Regions from separate parts of the Homo sapiens genome. Here regions 2 and 3 are each linked to region 1. Evidence: fine-mapped expression QTL. A gene starts in region 1. Each other region holds a variant in brackets. All regions are shown on one strand. Distances are between the middles of the regions.

Region 1 (5,000 bases):
GAATCATTTTAGGCAATTATTATGACCTAAAAAATTTTTAAATCTTAACGTATAGATTAATTCCTTGACAGCTGAAGTCATTTACAATACATTATTAAATTTCACATTCAGTTTTAAATCCAAACATAGATCTCAACATTAAGAATATGGATTTTAGGGAAAGTAACTAGCTGCTCAAATTCATTTAGCTGAAAAACTACTGTCGAATCACCTTGAAAATATACACTAATGCTTGCACATTGCTAAGTGGCTTTTGATTCTGCTCTTCATTTTCTTACACAGAATCAACCACACAATAGAATTAAGAACTCAGGCCCATGGCAAAGTGCTCCCATTTAGCAGTTAGGACACTGGACATATTCAGCATATGTCTACTGCTATTGAGAATCAAATTATGAAAACAAACTATATTTTATAAAACTAAGAATTTGTTACTCAGATGAGAATAAAGGTGCCTAATGCTACAGCAGGGGGTAAAAGTCCCAGTAAGAGAGCAATAATTGGTCATTCTGATGAGGAGCTGTGCCAAATTTAGAAATGAGGCACAAATGACAAAAAAATTGATCATCAGTGTGGACATGGGTAGGTCAGTGTGCATATGGGTAGGTTAGTATCTGCTGGCCGTGTCTACAGAGCCCCTTTTATTTATTTGAAGCCAACTTTTCACTTGACAATGCTACCTACAAAAGCACTGTTAATAGATAAGACAATCAAGTGGCTGTTATGCCGTGGCCTTTTTGTAAAAACTGCATGAGAACAGGTGGGATAAAAACCATAGAAAGGTAGAAAAAAAAAAGCATCACTCATTTAAAGATATGTGCACATAGATGAACTGTAAGATAATATAACCTTCTTGACCTTGTAAATAGGTGGCCAAAAATACTTAAATATCTTGACGAGGCAACTATTACTAATTGTCTCACAACATTACCAGTCCTTACTGGCTGAATCCTTCAGCCATCTGCATACGACATGCACAGGCAAATAGCCACTAAAAACATACACAATTCCAATTATCTCCTTGCATAACTAAAGACAAAAAGAACAGGAAATCCAAAAAATACAGCAAAACTGAAAACACTATACCTTGCCTTCCGTGCTATTTTAAGGCTGTCCCAGGCTGAAGGTTACTTCTCAGCCCTCAAAACTCCATTAACTGCCAAGACCAGCACCTTAGCACATATGGCACAGATGCCTAGTTGAAGCCTCCTTGTACTAAATGACCTCAAAAAACTGGGCTTTCTTTCCAAGATTAATGGAAACAAAAGTAATGATCATAAGGAACCTTCTAACTCTGTTAATGTTTCCTGCGGATATGTATGGCCAACTGAATATATAAAGGCTCAGTTCTTGCGGGGTACCCTGACAACTAGATGAATTAGGGTGAAGGTTCCAAGTTCGATGAACTCTTCTGAGTTTGAGTGCCCTAGGTGGTGACATTCAAGTGATTTCACAGACATCCACCAATTCTTATTTTCAACCGGGAATCCCAAGAACACCTTTAAACATGCAATGCCCATGGACCCTACTGGGTTTCTGCTGCAAGGGCTCAGTGTTACTTAGGAACCCTGTGTCTTGGGAGATACTTAAATTTAGCACGTCAAATTGCTTTTGGAAAATGTTTATCTGGCGTGACTAGGGGAGGCAAAGCAAGGAAACAGGAACCTCCCTCTAAGGAGCAGAATAGCCAACATGCAGTAAGCCTAAAAAACCTCTCAATTTATTTCCCGGGGCTATGGGTACCAGTGGCTCGCCGGCATGGGAATCAGCAGCCTGGGGGCACCAGTGACAGCAGAACCGGGGCTTACCTTGTTGGAGGCCATCTCACTGACGGAGTGCCTGGTCTGTAGGGTCTCTAGCTGGTCCAGACACCAGTCCAGCTCCTCCAGGGTCTCGCTGGCCAGTTTCTGGTAGGCCTCCTCTGCGAAGAGACAGGGAAAGGGGGACTCAGTTCTCAAGCGCTTCACGGGTCCGCTAGCGAGTTCAAAGGGGGCCATCCTGCCATACCCCGCCATGCTCGGATGCCCGGTGCCGGCACATGAGGGCTGCTCCTTCATATTGCCCAGCCCGGCAGTGCAACGGGGGCGGAGGCTGTGCTCGCGGGGCGGCCGGCCTCGGGGAGGCACGGTCTCTCCAGCTTGGCGTCTCGGGTCGGCCTCCAGGGAGGGCGTGCAAAGAGCGGCGAGCCAACTTTCACACAGCGACGCGAGCGGAAAAACCACTATGCGACTTTTCAACTGTGCGGCGGGCCCGAGTCCCAGTCCAGGAGCCCGGCTCTAGCGGATGGCGAGGGGGTGGCGAGCGCGCTTGGGTGCCCGCCCCGCAGAGGAGCGTCTGGTCCACAGCCGGATCTCCTCGGTCCCCAACCCGGAGCCGCGGCCCCACGCCCGCCCCGCCTGCCGAGCCTTCTGCACGGCACTTGAAGTGAATGAATCAGCCGCGGCCGGGTGCGCGGCCACCACGTTTCCTGTTTTCTTTCTCAACTCCTCGGGCGGCAGGCGCAGCGCGGCTCCAACGCCGCAGCTTTCCGGGAACACTCCCCCTCACGCCCCTCTCGGCCCTCGGCGCTGCCTGGCTCCTCCTCAACCCCCTTACGAAAAGATTCCGAATTGCAAAAGCCTGTCCCTGTCCGTGCCACCCGCCGCGTCCTTCCCCTCGAGCTCTGCCCCGGGGGCCCCGCCACCTCGCAGTGCCATCCCCCCGGCGCAGCCGGGCGCCACTCGCTTTGAAGTGCAGACGAGGAGGCGCGGGCGCGAGCGTGTGTGTCTGTGGGGCTGCTGTGGGACTGTCTGTGCTAGGAGAGCGGCGGAAAACCCGGCGTGGAGCGCCTGCAGTCCGCCGTCCGGGGTCGCGCCCGCCGCGGGGCTCAGGAGGGACCGGCACGCAGGCGCGCACGGCCGCGCACCTGTCTCGCTAGAACCCCGCGCGCCCCGCCGAGCCACTGCCCTCCAGGTTGCCCAGACCGCTGGAGCCTCTGCGACTCCACGACCGGCTGCTTCCTGCGAAGTTTCACAAACAAGGTTATTTAGGACCCTCAAGGTTTCTGAGGGTTTAAGTTTTAGGGTTTCTGGGGGTTCGTTTCTAAAGGCTTAGGATTCACCTACTTCAAGGAGGCAGGGTTGTGGGAATTAAGACCGCATTCTTTTTCTACCCAGCCCAGTCCCTACTAAGTACCAGACTTCTAAATGTTGGGGCGGACAGAAACAAGCAAACAAAATATACAATGTTGTGGGGTCGGAACGCTTTATAATTCACAAATTTGACAATAGGCTGCATTTTCATATGCCGAATTGCCTAAGAGTTCTCTTAAAGGAACAGCAATGTGAAAGAACCACATGGTAAGGAGAATTTACGCATGTCCTGCATACTACTCCTTTCCCCTGTGAATTGCATAAGACCTAGATGATCTTGGGCCAAGGAAGAAAATCTGGAAGGGTGTTTCTACCCACCATGTGCAGAGTACACTACAATTTTGAGAAAACGGAAAGACCATATTCAAAGGCATACAGAAAAGCCTGTTCTGTTTACAAAGGCTGACCCAGGGCACCAGGGACACTGTCCCTAAGCAGATCAGTTGTGGGAGAACTTTTCTACATTAGCATGCAATAAGCAAACCATTCATAGTGAGGAGAAGTCAAACTCCCAAGGGTCCATTTGATAAAACTTTGTCATTGTCGAGTGGAAAGAAGATACTGAGAAACTTACACTAAGTGGTGGGATCCCTTGTCTTTGTCTTTGAATCTACAGGTATTGGAGAAGAAATTCTGCCCTTGAAATTTAGACTCCATAAATTAACATGGCACAACAAATAAAGTTCATGGACTGAATTTAGGCTCCTGGGATTTTTGAGATAGCTTTTTATGTGAACTTTGTAAAAGTTAGAGTAACTTTTAAAGTAGTTGTTACATGTGCCACGTGGCTTATTGTTATCAAGAATACTTGAACTATTTACTGTTCACTTTGAGTACTCTAGGTTAAAATTTGCCTCTTTTTTGTTCTACTTCCTCCACCCCGCAGTCTATGTAAATATATACTTTAGATGGACAAACAACTGCCTAAACCTTGCCAGGTGAATTAAAGTTTCAGATTGAAGCTTTTTTTTCCCCCTTAACAAGCTTAAAGATATTAATAATTTTAAATGGTAAATATAAAATACCTGCTCTGTATAGCTTCCCCAATTCTAAGAATGTAAAAAATATTACATGCTTGTTATAAAAATTGAAGCATTACACACAAATATAGGAAGTCCATTGTAACCCCACACCCTAAAGATCACAAACAATACTTTCGCCTATGGCTCTAACACAATCATTTTCATTTTACTGAATAACTTCCATATGCAAGTATAGCATCACCTAGTTGCCATGGTAGTGCATCTACTATATGGTTTGGTTTTGATATTTTCCTCTCTCTCTCATTCCCATAATATAGGAATGTAGGAAATTTTAAGAGGACATTGACTTGTTTTATGATCATTTGAGCTGTCCATAGTTAGCCTATCCAGTGGATTAAAGATGCATAACCATTGTGTCTGGGATTTGTTCAGTGCCATCTTTTCAATCATTGGTTACAATGAAGCTGGGAGTCCCCTCTGAGGTTCGGCTTTCTGTGGCTCCTCTCCCCTGCACTCCAACTTTCTCAAAGCCTGAGCCTCAAGTGATTTCCCAGTAGCTAAGTAAACTGCCCCCTTCCTCCATCTTCACCAAGTTCCCAAAGCTGTTCAGACTCAGGCTTCAAATCTAACAGGATGTGGCTCCACACATTATATTTCAGTTGTTATTTTTTAATGTGGAAAATAATTCAGGAAAGTTTTGGCTAATGCTTCAAGACATCATGCACTTTATACACAGGATTTGTTCTTAAGAAGGTAGTATAGTGACAGGAGGAACAATTTACTTCAGAATATCCATTTTATGTCCAAGCCATGCACCAGCCACTTTTGACAGACAGGATTTGAGTATGATGATAAAATGGGGTAAGCATATATTTTAAGTTCTAAC
Region 2 (11,584 bases), 94 kb before region 1:
TCAGGGACTGCAATTTACGCATTAGTTTGAAGTTGTCCCATAACTCACTGACACACTTCTGTTTCTCATTTTGTGTACTTTTTATCTCTCAATTCTTAAAGTCACTAGTCTTCTGAAATTTCCAATTTGCCTTTAATTCTACTCAGTGTGTTTTTCATCTCACATAATGTTTTCATCTCTAAAGTTTGATTTTTAGTCTTTTTATATCTTCCATGTTTCTGCTTACCATGTTCAGTCTTTCCTCTGGCTTCTTGAACATGCGAAGTACAATTACAGTTCTTCTAATGTCTTTGCCGATTCTATCATCTTTGTCATTTCTGGGTTAGTTTCAAATGACTGATTTTTCTCTTCATTATGGGTCATATTTTTGTGGACAGTTTTTGGATCCTTTTGTATTTCTATAAATACTTTTGAACTTTGTTCTAGAACACACTTAAAATTACTTGCAAATAGTTTGACCCTTTATCTTAATTTTGTGCTTTGTTAGATGGTATTTCTATAAATATTCTTGAACTTTATTTTGAAACTCAGTTACTTATAAACAGTTTGATTCTTTTGGGTCTTATTTTGAGTTTCATTATGTGGTATCAGAGTAGTATTTAGTCTAAGTTCTATGTTACTGCATGACTGAAGCAAAAATTCTTCCAAGTATGCTACTCAATGCCCATTTCCTATAGAAACAGGAATGATTCTGAGCCCTGGATTCTATACCCCGTAATCATTCCAGCTGATTCTTTCCCCAGTCATGGGTAGTTTCCTCACATGCATATGCTGACTCATGCTCAGCTGAAGACCCTGTACAGATCCCCAGTGTTCTCTCTGCACAGCTGTCTCCTTTCCCATATCTTTCCTTGCAAACTCTACTCACTTTGCCCTCCCCAGACTCCACTTAGGGAGATGGCAGGGTTCCATCTGGGTTTTCCCTTTCTGTACCACAGTCTTGATACTCACTCCAGACAGTAAGCTGTGGCGAACATAAGATTCATCTTGTTTCTTGTTTCTCTTGGATCACTATTCTTCATTGCCTGATGTCTTGAAAAATCTTTTTATTTTTCAATATTGTGTCTGTTTTTTTTTCCACTGGTTTACTGGAGAGTAAATCTGGTCCCTGTTTCTTCATTTTGGCCAGAAGCAGAAATCTATTCATAGTATTTTTTCAAAAAGCTTCTCTGGTGGTTTTTATTCACACCCTCAATATACAACTGCTGCTATAAATTTTCTGTAAGATATTAGTAAGTGACCCAGAGCAAAGTTTATTCTATAAGAATGCCAGTTTGATGAGACCCGCTGATATTATTGTATCTTTGAGCCAGTTTGAGGACAAAATTGCCAGGTCTACGGCTGTCTTCTTCCCTGTGAGCTTCTTCTCATAGACTCACAACAAATAGGATAAAAGACAAAAAGAGTAATGTTACTAGTAATAAAACATTTCCACAAAGAATAAACATTTTCAAATCTGATCAGATAATCCAGGAATTTCTTAAAAGTTTCTTATTTCTAGGAAGAAAAATAAACAATTTAAGAGCTTTATGGAAAGGACACCGGGACTCAAATCCAATGAGAGACTTACCTTAACACTGCAGTGGGGGAGGCTTCCAAATGGCAAACTTCAGAAGAACACACTGTTTAGGGCTAAGGTTCTTAAACTGCAGGAGCAGAAATTATTGAGTGAATCCTACTGAGGCCCCAGAACTGTTGATTGCTGACTTTCAAAGAAGACCATCAGAATAAACTATTGATCAAACAAAGCTAAGTTTATTAACCTGCAGTAAGAGAGTGCAACACCTTGAAAAAGTCCTTATAATTCTCAAAAGGGAGAGGTCACAGGTAGATATTTATAAACATTAAGGGTCTGAGCTCAAGTGGTTTAAAGTCAGGCCTTTCAAGGAAGAAATCTGGTGGAAATTCGGCAAAGTTCATGATATTATAGTTTAGAATTGGTGGACATTGTGATAAGAGGGTCTTGAAGTCCTGAAAAATAGATCTTTGATAAACAAGTTATTAGACTTGGAGAGGAATCTGTTGTCCTGAAAAGGGGTTTATTTTTTCAAATGAGCAATCTATCATCTGAATAAATTGGTTTTCAGAAATTTTCTGAAGTAAACATTGATGTTATTTATTGTACACCGTCTTATCTTCCTGGACAAGAATTTTCTTGAACAAATAGTAAAGTCATAGTGACACAGATGGTTTGTTTTCCATACTGATAGTTAAGCTATGAGGATGCAGGTGGTCTCAGTTAGAGATAAGAATGGACCTATTGAAGAGGAAAGCCTACAGAACTGGGTATGATTAGACTTCATAGGGTCTGGTTATGATCTGACCAACAAACTAGCTGGAAGATTTGAACAAATGACATCACCTTTCTGAGCCTCACTGGACTTAACAGCTGGACTGACACTACCTGGGACACCACCACACAGAGCCCAGAGTGAACAGAGTGCAGCTCTTCACCCAGAGCTATGCCCCTCTACCCTTTGTATAATTCCTGGTTCATGGGACGGTAACAGATTTGAGGTCTGTCATACCTGGGCATCAGAATGAAAAGTTGCCTCCTGGTAGGTGAGTTGCCTCTATTGAATGTTGCTGCAGTCTGAATGTTTGTGTCTACCCAAAATTCATATTTTGAAATCCTAAACCCTAAGGTGATGGGGCTTTTTGATAGGTGATTAGGTCATGAGGGTTGAGTCCTCATGATCGGGATTAGTGTCCTTATAAATCAGGCACAGAAAGTGACCTTGCTGCTTTCACTGTGTAGGGATGGGACCACACCAGACAGTGAATCTGCTGGCAGCATGATCTCGGACTTCTCAGCCTCCAGAACTGTGAGAAATAAATGTTCGTTGTTTATAAACCACCCAGTTTATGGTATTTTTGTTAAAGCAGCCTAAATGAACTAAGACAAATGTTTATATAACTTGGGTTTTCCAAGGCCTCACCACATTGTAAGTAGAAATAGGGTTACGTTAACAGTAACAACTAAACTTTAGTGGTTCTTGCCACTAGCAAGGCAAGCAAGACCCTACTACCTGGGGAGAAGGGAGTCTCGCAAGGGCTCCTTGCATATGTGCACATACACAAGTCAAGGCCACTGCTGCTTCTGCTACCCCTTCTCAGTGCTATTGCTCCTATCCAGCGTCTGCTGGGAACCCCTCTCCCAGAAGGTCTAAGAGGAACTGCCTGGTGTCCCAGGTATCTCCTGAGAAAGGGACCACTGTTGTGCTGGCTCCCTCAGGGAGCTAGAGCTGCCCAGAGGTCTCTGGGGACAGGGAAATTGGCTCTCCCCATTTTGTGTTATAATCAGTTGAATGATCCCTATGGTATCCTTGAATTCCTTTGTGTTATAGAGTTTAGTAAAACAACACTTTCAATTGATCCTCCCAGTTAGAGGTATATTGAATACACATTTTGGCCATATATGGAAAGGCGTAGTTTGGCATAAGCTGAGGCTAAAGATAAATATCAGCATCATAGAGTACACTTATGGAATGTGAATACATCTGAAATTTTATTTTAAAATTGATGATTATACTATACAATTCCATTTATATAAACTTCTCAAAAGATGAAACAATTGGGATGGAGAACTAGTAGCTGTTCCTAGTGTCATGGAGTAGGGTATTATGAGGAAGCTTTTTAGGTGGTGAAACTGATCCAGATGGTGATCCTACTGGTGGTTACATGAACAATGTTTGTGTTAAAATTTACAGAACTGTAACTGTCTAATGGGTTCTTCTTGCCTGCTGCTCAGATAAAGCTGATTTATCAAGATAGGGCAATTGCAGTAGAGAAAGAGTTTAATACAAATAGAGCCAGCTAAACAGGAGACCAGAGTTTTATTATTACCCAAATCAGCCTCCCTGAAAATTTGGAGGCTAGAGTTTTTCAAGAGTAATTTGGTGGGCAAAGGAATGGGTGCTGCTGATTGGTTGGGGATGCAATCATATGGGTGTGGAAAATGGTCCTCGTGTGCCCTGAGTCAGCTTCCAGTAAGGGTCCACAGAGGAGTCACTGGTTCAGGACACTGGGTCATCAGAAATGCAAAAGCCTGACAAGACATCTCAAAAGGTCAACTTTAGGTTCTACAATAGTAATTTTAGGTTCTACAATAGTAACGTTATTTACAGGAGTAATTGAGGAAGTTGAAAATCTTGTGACCTCTGGAATAATGGCTGGTAATCACTTAACTATGCCTATATCTTAGCAGAATTCAGGCCCTCCTATCTTCGTAAACTGGTGGCCTTTCATTAGTTTTACAAAGGCAGTTTAGTTTTGGAAAGAGCTATTATCATTTAAACTATAACCTAAATTTCTCCCAAAGTTAGCTTAGGCCATGCCCAGGAATGAAGGGCAGTTTGGAGGTTAAAGGCAATGTGGAGTTGGTTAGGTCAAATTTCTTTCACTGTCAAAGTTTTCTCAGTGTTGCAATTTTTGCAAAGGTGGTTTCAGAACTGTACATCAAAAGGAAAAAAAATCAATTTTACTGTATGATAATTTTAACAATAATATAAATTAATGATTAGTGCAGGTTTTTTTTTTAAGTTGTATAAAATTTTTATAGTTTGACATGATAGTGACTCAGAATTTTCAGCTGCCAGATTCCTTTTGTGGTCACCATCGCATGTTTCTGATACAGATTGAATATCCCTTGTCCTAAATGCTTGGAACTGGAAGTGTTTTGGATTTCATTTTTTTGAAATATTTTGGGATATACACAATGAGATATCTCACTGATGAGAACTGTCTAAACACAGAATTCTTTTCTATTTCATATACACCTTTTACACTGACAACTGAAATGAGTAATTGAAGCATAAGTTTCAAAGCATCAAGCTTTGTTGAGCCAGCTTGAAGGCATACCTGGGAAAATAGAGAGTCACAGAAGCATGTGTGACTGTTTTTTCCAAAGAGGTTCTTAGGAGGTTTAGTATTTATATATTTTCCTTAAAAGGCAGGGGAGGTGGTGGGGCAGCAGTGAGACAAATGATTACATACTTGTAAAACTTTAGTTAGTGCCTGGTAAATCTACATCTTACATAAAATAAGGTGAACATAATGAATCTCATCTGGACTGTTACGTATCTGGGAAGATAAGCTAGTAGTCTTTTGGAAAGGCTGGTTTCTGTTTAGCTGTTAAGGAAGAAAACCTAACGACTGTTAGC[G/A]AGGGTGGGGATATAATGAGGCATATGCCAAATCTCCCATCCCATCATAGCCATGAATTCAGCTTCCAAGGTTTTGCTGGGGTTCCCTTGGCCAAGAGAGAATCCGCTGGGTCAGTCGGAGGGACTTAGAGTTTTATTTTTATTTCCTAACAAATAGCCTGAAGATAATTTTATACATATTTTAAAATAGTTTTGTTCATGAAGCAAAGTTTTGATTGGTACCCATCACATGAGATCAGGTGTAAAATTTTCTACTTGTGGCATCATGTTGGCATTGAAAAAGTTTCAGATTTTGGAGCATTTCAGATTTCAGATTTTCAGATTAGGGATGTTCAACCTGTACTAAGGAGTTACTGGCTTTCGAATGGCATGTTTAATAATTTCACCTTCTGGGGAATAACACAGCCAAATACAAATCAGGAAAATGTCTTTCAGTAATTTGTTTTCTAGAAGAAACTTTGCATGCATTTACATAGCTTAGATAAATGAGAAACTCCGAAGCTTCAACTATTGAAAATATTTGCTAGCTTGTAAAAATCAATTTAATATTAGAATAGTCTCTATAAATTCAAAATAAGAAATTGTCTTCTGTGTTCTGAAGTTTGATTTGTGAATAAAATGCATGTCAGAACTCAGCTAAAATACATTCATTTTTTTCTATCAAATTTTACTTATCTTTTTGGTGTATATGATTTCAGATACATTTCTCTCCATGAAATTTTGAAATGTCAGATGGCATTCTGCTTTTAATTCAGCCTCATATAATGCAAAAAATAAGACTTATGACTTACTGGAATTAAATAATTAAAAATATCATTCTTTAAGCTTACTTTTTGAGTATTGTGAATGCAATTATACCAAAACAATTCTACAAAGATTCTAATTATGAAGTAATCTAATATCATCATAGTAATTAAATCTATATAAGCTTTTGTTGACTCAATACAATTATATTATTTTCTACATTAGTTATCTAGCTAATCCTCTTAATATTCCTACTGCCAATCAAGCTCCCAAATTTAATTACTTAAACATTTTATTAATAGCTTTTTTTTTTAACATAAATTAACAGCTCTCATAAACATTATTTGTTGGAATATCTTATTTTGGGGATAAGCCGTATACATTTCTTCCTCAGCTGACTGGTAGAATTTCAACATATAAAGCACCTAAGAAGATTTCACTCCAAGTTAGAATGCTTACATATGTTTGAAAGGCAATGTAGAGATATTAACAATATCTTTAATGGCATGCCTTCTTTAAGTAGCTGTTGTTGTTACACTGATTAGATATGTAATCATATGATCACAGGGATGCCAGAAAGAATGATGAAGTGGGCTCTCTGAAGGCTGAAGCAGAAAGACTGATTATTGCCAAATGCTGAACCAAAACCAAGTCTGTGCAGTCCTACTTACAAGCTTTTCTATCAACAACATGGGCACCTACTTCCTGTTGACAAAGTCTGAAAAAGAAAAAACAAAACAAAATACACCCACACAGTCATGAATCAATTGAGCTGGGTAGAGCCGTGTCTAAAAAACAGAAGATACCATGCTGTATTGAGAAGTACTTCTCCTTCTGACTCTGGCTTAATTACTGAATCCTGCCAGGTTCTCTTTTTCTTTTTCTCTTTTCTTTCTTTCTTTTTTTTTTTTTTTTTTTTTAGACTGAGTTTTGCTCTTGTTGCCCAGGCTGGACTGCAATGGCGCGATCTTGGCTCACAGCAACCTCCGCCTCAGCCTCCCGAGTAGATGGGATTACAGGCGCCTGCCACTATGCCTGGCTAATTTTTGTATTTTTTTTTTTTTTTTTTTTTTTTTTTTAAGAGACAGAGTTTTACCATGTTGGCCAAGCTGGTCCTGAACTCCTGACCTCAGGTAATCCACTGGCCTCGGCCTCCCAAAGTGCTGGGATTACAGGTATGAGCCTCCGCACCCAGCCATGGTTCCGTCTTTTTCTAAGTCCTCATGACTTGATTGTGCACAGGCCCACCGTTCCAACCTTCCATGCTATCATATATTCCTGAGTGTATCTAAGTTCCTGTTAGCCTTCTGCTACATGTATATACATATACATATTATTTTTTAGTACCTGCTAAATAACAGGCACTATGTATGCTAAAAAAGAGAGTGTATATCTATCTATATTCATATGTGTGTATATATTTCTAATAAATTTCTAATATAATTTTATGAGGGACTTCCACTTAAACATGGGGATTGAATGTACATATTTTTCTATTTCTCCACAAAAACGACAGCAAAAGAATTTTTTAAAATGGCATAAGCTTGCAAGGACAAAGGCAATGGAAAAGAAGCTGACACACAACATTTCAGAAACTGGAAGCAGCCAGGTAGGTCATAATTGACTTGGGAACAGAGTGAGCAGAAACCTAAGGCAAGTAAGGGAAATGCATCAGTAAGCTAATTTACTCCATAGAATTCCAGGAAGACTTGGAAAATTGAGGATCCAGGGACTTATGGAAGTGGGGACACTGGTGGGTTTCAAAAACAGGAGGGTCAGTTGAAAATTTATAAATAAAGCAGTTAAAATATTTTCACCCACCTCATGTCATTGGATGACTACCTTTCACTCACGCCGGTTCTAAACATACACCCTCTGGAGAGGCTGATTCCAAAGGGATTCAGGACTCAGATGTGGCAACCATTGCTGAGAAAAAGGCTACAATATTAGAACCAGACTACCATATTAGAACCAAGTACATATTCTGCATTGAGAAACCCCAGCTCCTTCTCATACTCAGCTGGTAGAATTATGGCACCAAAGAGATTGGAGTAAGATCACCAGGAAAACCAACAATCCAAGAAAAAAAATCTAAAAACGGCAACAGGTTTTTGGATGTCCTTCAGTGAAATGTCCAAGCAAGAATATCCCCATGAAGCTTTCCAGTCAACAAACCTTGTACACACACAGGATTTTCACTTGGCTTTCTAATGTCTAACTCTTCAATACGAACTGACTGCCAAGGATTATCAGACAATGTGAGGAAAACCTCTCGCATAAAAGACCAAAAAACAGAAAAGAAACTAAGATGACACAAGAACTGTGAGGTGAGCAACAGAAAGTCTAAAGCAAATTCTAATAAATACCAGAAGGTAACACATCCATGAAATGGATGGAAATGAGCCATGTAAGAATTTGACTTGTAAACAATGTAACTATATTACTCCTACAAATTTATTTCTTTAATTTAAAAAACGAATTAGTAAATAAAACAGCCATGTGTAATGACTCTTACAAGAAAGAAAATTGGAGCTCAGATTAAAGAATATGCCCAGAGTGACACATTTGAAGCTGGGTGTGTCTCATTGCAGGTCCAGACATTTCCAGATTTCTCCTGGAGTCCAAGGGGCATGTCAGTGGACCCCGGATGTTTCAAGCAGTATCTTGGATTGCTCTTGGGAAAAATCTCTCTACATTCTTCACCCTTAGGTTACTGTCACCCTTCATTACTACTACAAATCTTCCTCAAGACAAGTTTCAGGCTGGGGATATACATTGAAGAACTTCAACTCTTTCTTAAGTTCTTAAGTGAGAGAGCAATCTCATCAGCATATTTTTTGAAAGCCACTGCTCAGATCAAAAGCAGGCCTGGGAATGATTCAGGAAGAAACACTTGGCTCTTGTACCATGAGACCTGAACCTGGAATTTCTCTTGAGGTCTTCCTTGATGGACGGAACGCTTTTATTCTTCTTATTCAAGAAAACGAGTTCACATAGGTCATGGTACTAGTAACCTTAGCATAACAAGAAGGAAGGATGGAATTATAAAATGCTCTTGGGTATGTTTTTTCTTCTCCTTCATCCTGAATAACCCTAGGGCTATGTGGGGAGAGAGGAGACTACATTCTCAACAGTGAGACCTAGTTCCTGTCAAGGTAAGTTTGTGTTTTGAAACTAGCTGCTTGTTAGCATATGCGTAAATTATAGAAAAAAGGAAAATGTTCACAGGAGTCAAACTTGTTCTCCTCTTCCTCTTCTTCGTAAGTTCTAGAGCTGACAAACACTGGGGTATACTGCAATAAACCATGTTCCAATTCCTATAAAAAATACTAATTATTGTCAGAATTATTTCATGAATCCTGAACACATTTGATGCTCATTGACTTCAAGAAAAGGGACGAGACTGGCTGCTACAAGAAGGCATCTACAAAACATTTGAGAATGCCAGGAGTGCAAAGAATGAATTGCTAGGATTTTCTGTGTTCACCCCTATTCAACTAGCCTTAAACATGGGAATAAAAATGTTTTAAGTACACGTACATGAACATGTATATATGTGTATGCATATCAGAGGCTTGGTCAAAACTCAGCCAACATAGGCTAGAAACTGCTTTGCCACTCTTGGAAGCCACAGATTTGCTGTTTTAACTTCTCTGCACTTATATTTCTAACTTGTAAAATAAAAATAGATCACCTAAGAGAGAAGGCTGGAATTCAACACGGAAGTGACACCTAGCATGAAAAACAAGAGGAAAGTGAAGTAGCCTGCTCAGCTGGGATTAGCAGGGAGTCTGGAGGGGCTCCCTAATGTGAGGAAAGAGTAGGTGAGTAGCCCCCAGTGGCCCACCTTCCTACCATGGACTCCTGCAATCCTAGCCACTGGAGAGTCCTTTGACCCACACAAGCCCTGAGAAAAAAGGAAAAACGTTCACAGGAGTCAAACTTGTTCTCCTCTTCCTCTTCTTCGTAAGTTCTAGAGCTGACAAACACTGCGGTATACTGCAATAAACCATGTTCCAATTCCTATAAAAAATACTAATTATTGTCAGAATTATTTCATGAATCCTGAACACATTTGATGCTCATTGACTTCAAGAAAAGGGACGAGACTGGCTGCTACAAGAAGGCATCTACAAAACATTTGAGAATGCCAGGAGCGCAAAGAATGAATTGCTAGGACATAGGGCACTGGCTGGAGACCCCATGATGGCATTGCTTCATATGGGGAGCTCACACTGGGTCACCCCACCCACCCTCCCTCTTACCCCACTCTTAAGGCACTCCAGCAAGGTACCATTTTGAAAGCCCAGCAGACTGCATCCTACCCTGGGACCCCACAGACCTTGCAACTCCAGATTCCTTGAGCCCCATTGACCTCCCCCTAACGCAGACCCTGCTGCTGCTGGCTGCTGCCTCCATATCCAATGTGGGGGCCACTGGAAGCTACCCACCATCCCCATCAGCAGGGTACCGTACATTTAGAAGCACCCTGAGAACAGGCTACCCCACCAGCAACTACCACCTGGGGCCAAAGTGTGTGCTCCCAGTGGCCCTCCTAAGGCTTCTGCCAATGAAAGCAACCCCAGCAACATGGCTAGGGTGTAGCTGCTGGTCCTCCCATCCAAGCATTCCACTGAGGGCCTGGAAATCACCATGCCCCTGCCTACCATAGCTAGTGCCTATATATACCATCGGGGGGCCTGAGGCTCACCTCTGTCTCCCTTCTCCCTAGTGCCCATGCAGGGGCCTGGGGATTGCTCAGCCCCATCTATTCCTGTTGGCGCCTGAGCACTCATCCTGAAGGCCTGGAGATGGGTTCACCCAACCTGCCACTACCATCACAGCCAGCATACACCCCCCACCCACAGACATGAACCACCTGTGGGCCTGGGAAATGGCCTGCAGCCACCTTGAAAATCAGTTGGGACTACTTGGGTACCAGAGGATTGTCCTGCCACTGCAACTGCCATCACCCACACCATGCCTGATGCCCAGGGCCTATGGACCTGCCCATCCACCTGGCCCACAGCTGCCATTGCCAGCACCTCAGCAAGCTGACTGGAAGCCCCCAGATCAGCCCGCCTGGACACACTAACACTGATGCCAGCATATACCACATTTACCACCAACTGATTTTCTATAAAGGTGCCAAGTATATACACTGAGGAAAGGACACTTTCTTCACTAAATGGAATAGAAAAAACTGGATATCCATATGCAGAAGAATGAAACTGGACCCATCTCTCACCCTGTACAAAAATCAACTCAAATCAGTTAAGGACTTAAACATAAGACCCAAAATTATGAACTACTACAAGAAAACATAGGGAAAACAATTCAGGACATCAGTCTGACCAAAGATTTTATAGCTAAGATCTCTAGATCACAGGCACCAAAAAGAAAAATAGACAAATGGGACTATATTAAACTAAAAATTCTTCTACACAAGAAACCAACAGACTGAAGATACAGCTTGTTGAATGGGAGAAAATATTTACAAGATATTTATCCAACAAGGGACTAGTATCCAGAATATACAAGGAACTCAAACAACTCAACAGTAAAAGACCACAAATCATCCTACTAAAAAGTGGGTAAAGGGCCAGGTGCAGTGGCTTACACCTGTAATCCCAGCACTGTGGGAGGCTGAGGCAGGTGGATCACTTGAAACCAGAAGT
Region 3 (5,000 bases), 41 kb before region 1:
GAACAATGAGAACACATGGACACAGGGAGGGGAACATCACACACCAGGGCCTATGAGCGGGTAGGGAGGGGAAGGACAGCATTAGGCAAAATACCTAATGTAGATGACAGGTTGATGGGTGCAGCAAACGACCATGGCATGTATATACCTATGTAACAAACCTGCACGTTCTGCACATGTATACCAGAACTTAAAGTATAATAATTAAAAAAAATTTGCTTTACAGATAAATTCACACTTGGAAAAATATACTCATTAGGCAAAGCATATTCCAAAGAAAAGAGTCTGCTAAACATTTTAAACACACATTCAATGAAATATCTCTTTGACCTAAAATTGTTCATGTTATGAGCTAAAAGTTGCTATTAAGAACTACCTGGTCATGACAAAGTCTTTTTTTTCATAAAAGATAGGAGATGAGGCAAAGCTTTCACCATTGCTAGAATCTCAGCAGTCTATACAGGAACTGCTGCCCTCCTTGCACTTCTCTCAATAAAGCAAAACAAGGGAAGCCTTCTGGGAGTGATTGATAAAGATAGATAGAGACCCAGTTATCACAGGTTTATCTTCTAACTTGTACACAAACTAGTATAAGGATTATGTTGCCCAAAGAGAACATGTGGATGCTACCTGCAGATATGCTACATATATTATTGGATTTTTCTAAAAGAATATAAAGAACGAAGTATAATTTTCCTGGCAGTTTGCTTAAACAATTCACCAAAATAGCCAGTTAGTACAGATAACTGAAGAAAAAAGCCAGTGAAAGGAATCTAAATATTGTACAGACTAGATAAGTGACATCCTGCATGTTCATCTTTCTGGTCATATACATTATTCCCAGAGTACTTTCCAGCCTTTGTTTAAAACACAAAAACATGGATTGGAGAAATCCTCCATCACATGCCCACCTCCCTACCAAGGCTTATAAGGGACTCCAAGGAAGTCAACATTTCATTTTAACATAATTATAAAAGACAATATTTGAAGCAATTACTTCTCTACTCTAGGAAGACGGTCTAAGGAATTTCCTAAAGATAATTCTGAAGCGTACATTAAGTTATAACACAAGGGTATTTTCTAAAAGGAATTAACATTGTTTTCCTTTTTTGCTATCCATATAAAAGTTTCAGTCCAGCAAAGCTAAATGAATAACCACAAAAATTACCATAAGTGCTTTCTCAACTGGTAGTTGATCTCACAAATTGGTTTTGGAGTGCATAGCTAGATGTACTAAAAAAATGCACTAGATCATTCAACAAACATTTAAAAATGTGATACTTCTCTCATCTAAAAATAATTATATAATATTTACTAAGATAACTACATAAAATTACCAAAGGGGGAAGGACTGATTTAAAGCTAATACAATGTATTCTTCTGGGAAATCCCATCATATTTCTCAATTAATATATTTAGAAGGGACAAAACATTAAACTGCTGTTTGAAACGAACCGATTGTAAAATGCAGAACCATTTAAGCATTTAGTTTATTTTTTTAAGTGACCTCTAAATATTTTCCATTGATGAATTTCTAATTGTTTTTGGCCTAAGTAGTCTGAAAACAATACACAGATTTAGGGTTGCAACTAAAAAAACGGGAGGATTTCTAAGTGAATGCTTTTGAATCCTTTGTTCTCATTATACATCAGAATGTCTGTGTACAGCAGTTAAGGCATAAAGGAAAGTAAAAATGCAGTTGAATCTCAATACTGTATTTTGCTTTTCAGAACTGCAATTCTTCAATTTACATTAGGCATTTAAGATTGTTCAGGAAGCAAACTAAAATAATAAAACAAAATGTCCTTAAATGTAATCTCCTTTACTTCTACATCACGCCAGTGTGCTACTGGGTATATTATATATCCTCCCAATATATATTTAAGGAGGTGGTATGGGTCCAATAGTAAGAAAATTTTCTTATTTTTTCCTGACAATATTCTGCTAAAAATCATTTGAATATGCTGCACTGTGATGCATTACAAGTTTGGTAGATATCAGTATTCAAAGTTATTTAAACAAATACTCCATTGATGGTATAAAAATAAAACCTTCAAAATGCATAAGACCAAATATATCTATATTTGCTATTTTTACATGTTTTTAAAGGTACAGTATTAAACATAAAGCTGTCCAGGAAAAATTTTCCTCAAAAAGAAACGTACTAAAATTCTATATGTAGATTCTTGGCAATATTGTTCATAATCATAGTACAAATGGTTCATAATCACAGTACAAATGTGAAGCCCTTCAAAAATAACATCAGTTGTGAGCTGGCTAAAAGCTAGGAGCTGAATTCTGGCGGATAATGAGGGCTTCTTATATTTACTCTCTATACTTTTCTGCATTTCTGAAGATTTTTAGCCAAGAAATGGCTAACAAAATTCAAATAATGGAAGTCTATATATTTTAAAAACATTTTTAAAAATCTGAATCATCCACAGATTTAAAGGGAGGTAAGGAATCATGACTACTTGGACAACCAAGACTGAAATAAGTTTTCTAATTTTTTTAGAATTCAAGTAAATCTCTAAAACAAAGGGGAACTTGTCCTTCAAAAAGAAAGAAACAAAGCAAACGACAAACACTCCAATCTGAAAAATCCTCAGAGTAACAGAAAATGAATCTTTTAAAATGTGTTGTGATTGGCTCCCAGGTTCAAGCGAGTGGCTCAAATACCAAAAATCTGTGAAGTGATGTTTCATTTAGGACTGAATAAGGTTTTTCTACCTCCTTCTATTGTGGAGACAGGATCACAATGCTAATGTTACCACAGGGCATGGAAAAAGCCTGCCAAGCATGGACACAATCTTATTGAATTGTTTATTAATTCATTTCTTGAGATTCACAAAACAGTGTAATAAAAACTTTGTTCAGTTTTGCAAGTATAATAG[ACAAT/A]CAAGTTTTCACTTTAGTATCACTTACATAGTTAAGTAATGTCAATTTTTAATGTCACCTAGGGCTTTATAGCTAAAGGTGAAAAAAACGTATTCCTCGTCAGGTTAAAGTAGTATAGATTTTTAGAAACAGCCACAAATTAATTTTATAAACTTTATGTGCAACATACTAACTGGAATCCATAAATCAGTATAAGTAATTTGGCCCAATAATTTATTTGCAATGAATGTATTTAATTACCATATATTTTTCAAGCACAATTCAAACATATACCACATGACAAACAGAAGAACTACTGCGTATCTAAAAAAGCTATTTTAACACTCAAACTACAACTGATGAAAGTTATACAATCTTATCTTGACCACTATTAACACGTATTTCTTCCTAGTTCATGTGTAAGGAAAGAATACATAACTGATAGTTTGAACAAATTACAGTAGAGTCTAAGCTTTCTAAATAATTTTGTAATCAGAGTAAGGAGTTTTCAAAAGCTAAGTAAGTCTTACCTTTATGTAGCCCCAAGACACTGACAGTAAATAGTTTGCTTCAGGCATTTTTGATTGATTATATGTATATATATATATATGTATATATATAGTAAGCTCTAAAATGTATTTAGCTTCAAAATCTCGACACTTTAACAACCTCCACAAGCCACGCAGAGTATGAGTTTTTAAAGATTTTTGGTAATTAAGTATACATAAGAAAGCCTCGCATTAAATCCCATCCAGCCGTCTTCCCATCGAATACATGCCATTTGTAAGACTCCAGAATGGCACAAAATTCAGCAACTATTCTGAATAAAGAAAATCCACGTGATAAAGGAATATCTAAAGATCTAAGGGTCTGCATCTTTCTCTCCCGAGCTCCAGGGCTTAATGAATAATGTATGTCAAGATGCTTAGTTGCAAGAAAGGCTAGTCCTGTCAAAAGCTACCAAATAAGGAACTGCAGGGAAGCCGGGAAGAGTGACAAGAAGCCCCTCCCATAAAACCCCAACTCTGCACCAATTGCATTCCAGCTCTTAGCCTATAAGGCGAGGGGGTGTGGCCTCGGTGCAGGCTGCTTTGGGATTGGTTGGCAAGGGCCAGCCTCTGGGGAGGCTTTCTCCTCACCCGACAAACGCCATTGAATAATGGTATCCCTGCAGCTCTGAGGCCACCCTGAGAAAAGATGAACGGGGCTTCCCTCTTGCAGTGATGAATAATGACCATAAAACTCCTCAAAATTCGTAGTTCATTCTTAAGAATTGCCCATCCTTTTGGAGGGCATTTTCTATGAATTTTAATGTCCTCTGGCTTCCCTTCCTTCCAAATAAAAACTGCTCCAAAAATGGCAATCGAGCATTTTAATTGCTTCCCTCTCTCAAATCCAAAACAAGTGGCTCCCTGGTGATGTAGAAATGACTGTAGTTCTCCCCTCATCCAACATAAAAGCATAGGGATTAAACAATACGACTAATGTCCAGAATTCACAGATGGCACAGATGGCAATGACACATTCCCTCACCTGTGTGCCATGGCTGCTCTCAGCTCCTTTTGTTTCTATTGTTATGTATGACAGAGTTCTAAAACCTTCAAAATCTAGGGGTGGGACCACTTGCAATTCTGGGGGGAGGGAAATGTGAAAGCTAGGGCACTGTGTATGCATAAGGAATGCAGTGTTTTGTATATAGAACTCAGGATCTGTATTTTGATCAGAAGAGAATATTTTATTTATTTATTTAGAGACAGAGTCTCGCTGTCGCCCAGGCTAGAGTGCAGTAGTGCGATCTTGGCTCACTGTCACCTCTGCCTCCCGGGTTCAAGCGATTCTCCTGCCTCAGCCTCCCGAGAAGCTGGGATTACAGGCGCCCACCACCACGCCTGGCTAATTTTTGTATTTTTAGCAGAGACGGGATTTCACCATGTTGGCCAGGCTGGTCTCAAACTCCTGACCTCAGGGGATCTGCCCACCTCAGCCTCCCAAAGTGCTGGGATTACAGGTGTGAGCCAACGTGCCCAGCCAGAACAGAACATTTTAATAACTGTACACAAAGTTAAGAAAGGAATGAGTGGCTCTTAGGAATCCAGAATTGAGCTCAAGAGTAATCAGACATT

Evidence for each region. PIP is the estimated chance that this variant, and not a neighbour inherited with it, causes the effect. A credible set is the group of variants that fine-mapping cannot tell apart.
Region 2: its variant is the best candidate, but not a certain one, in a credible set for the expression of PDE4D-AS1 in whole blood (INTERVAL, PIP 0.76).
Region 3: its variant is the best candidate, but not a certain one, in a credible set for the expression of PDE4D-AS1 in whole blood (INTERVAL, PIP 0.50).

What each region holds. Positions count from the first base shown.
Region 1 is chr5:59,037,051-59,042,050 of GRCh38, forward strand. PDE4D-AS1 (PDE4D antisense RNA 1) reads left to right here and starts at 2,716. Exons shown (of 2, transcript NR_198970.1): 1 at 2,716-3,020. It overlaps PDE4D (phosphodiesterase 4D), which reads right to left. Exons shown (of 15, transcript NM_001104631.2): 6 at 1,809-1,921. RefSeq lists a silencer at 2,085-2,154.
Region 2 is chr5:58,939,804-58,951,387 of GRCh38, forward strand. No RefSeq gene overlaps it. Among named protein-coding and RNA genes, the nearest start is that of PDE4D-AS1, 94 kb to the right of the region's middle. The variant G/A (reference allele first, on the strand shown) is at 5,163.
Region 3 is chr5:58,996,082-59,001,081 of GRCh38, forward strand. All of the region lies in intron 6 of PDE4D (phosphodiesterase 4D), which reads right to left. Among named protein-coding and RNA genes, the nearest start is that of PDE4D-AS1, 41 kb to the right of the region's middle. The variant ACAAT/A (reference allele first, on the strand shown) is at 2,895.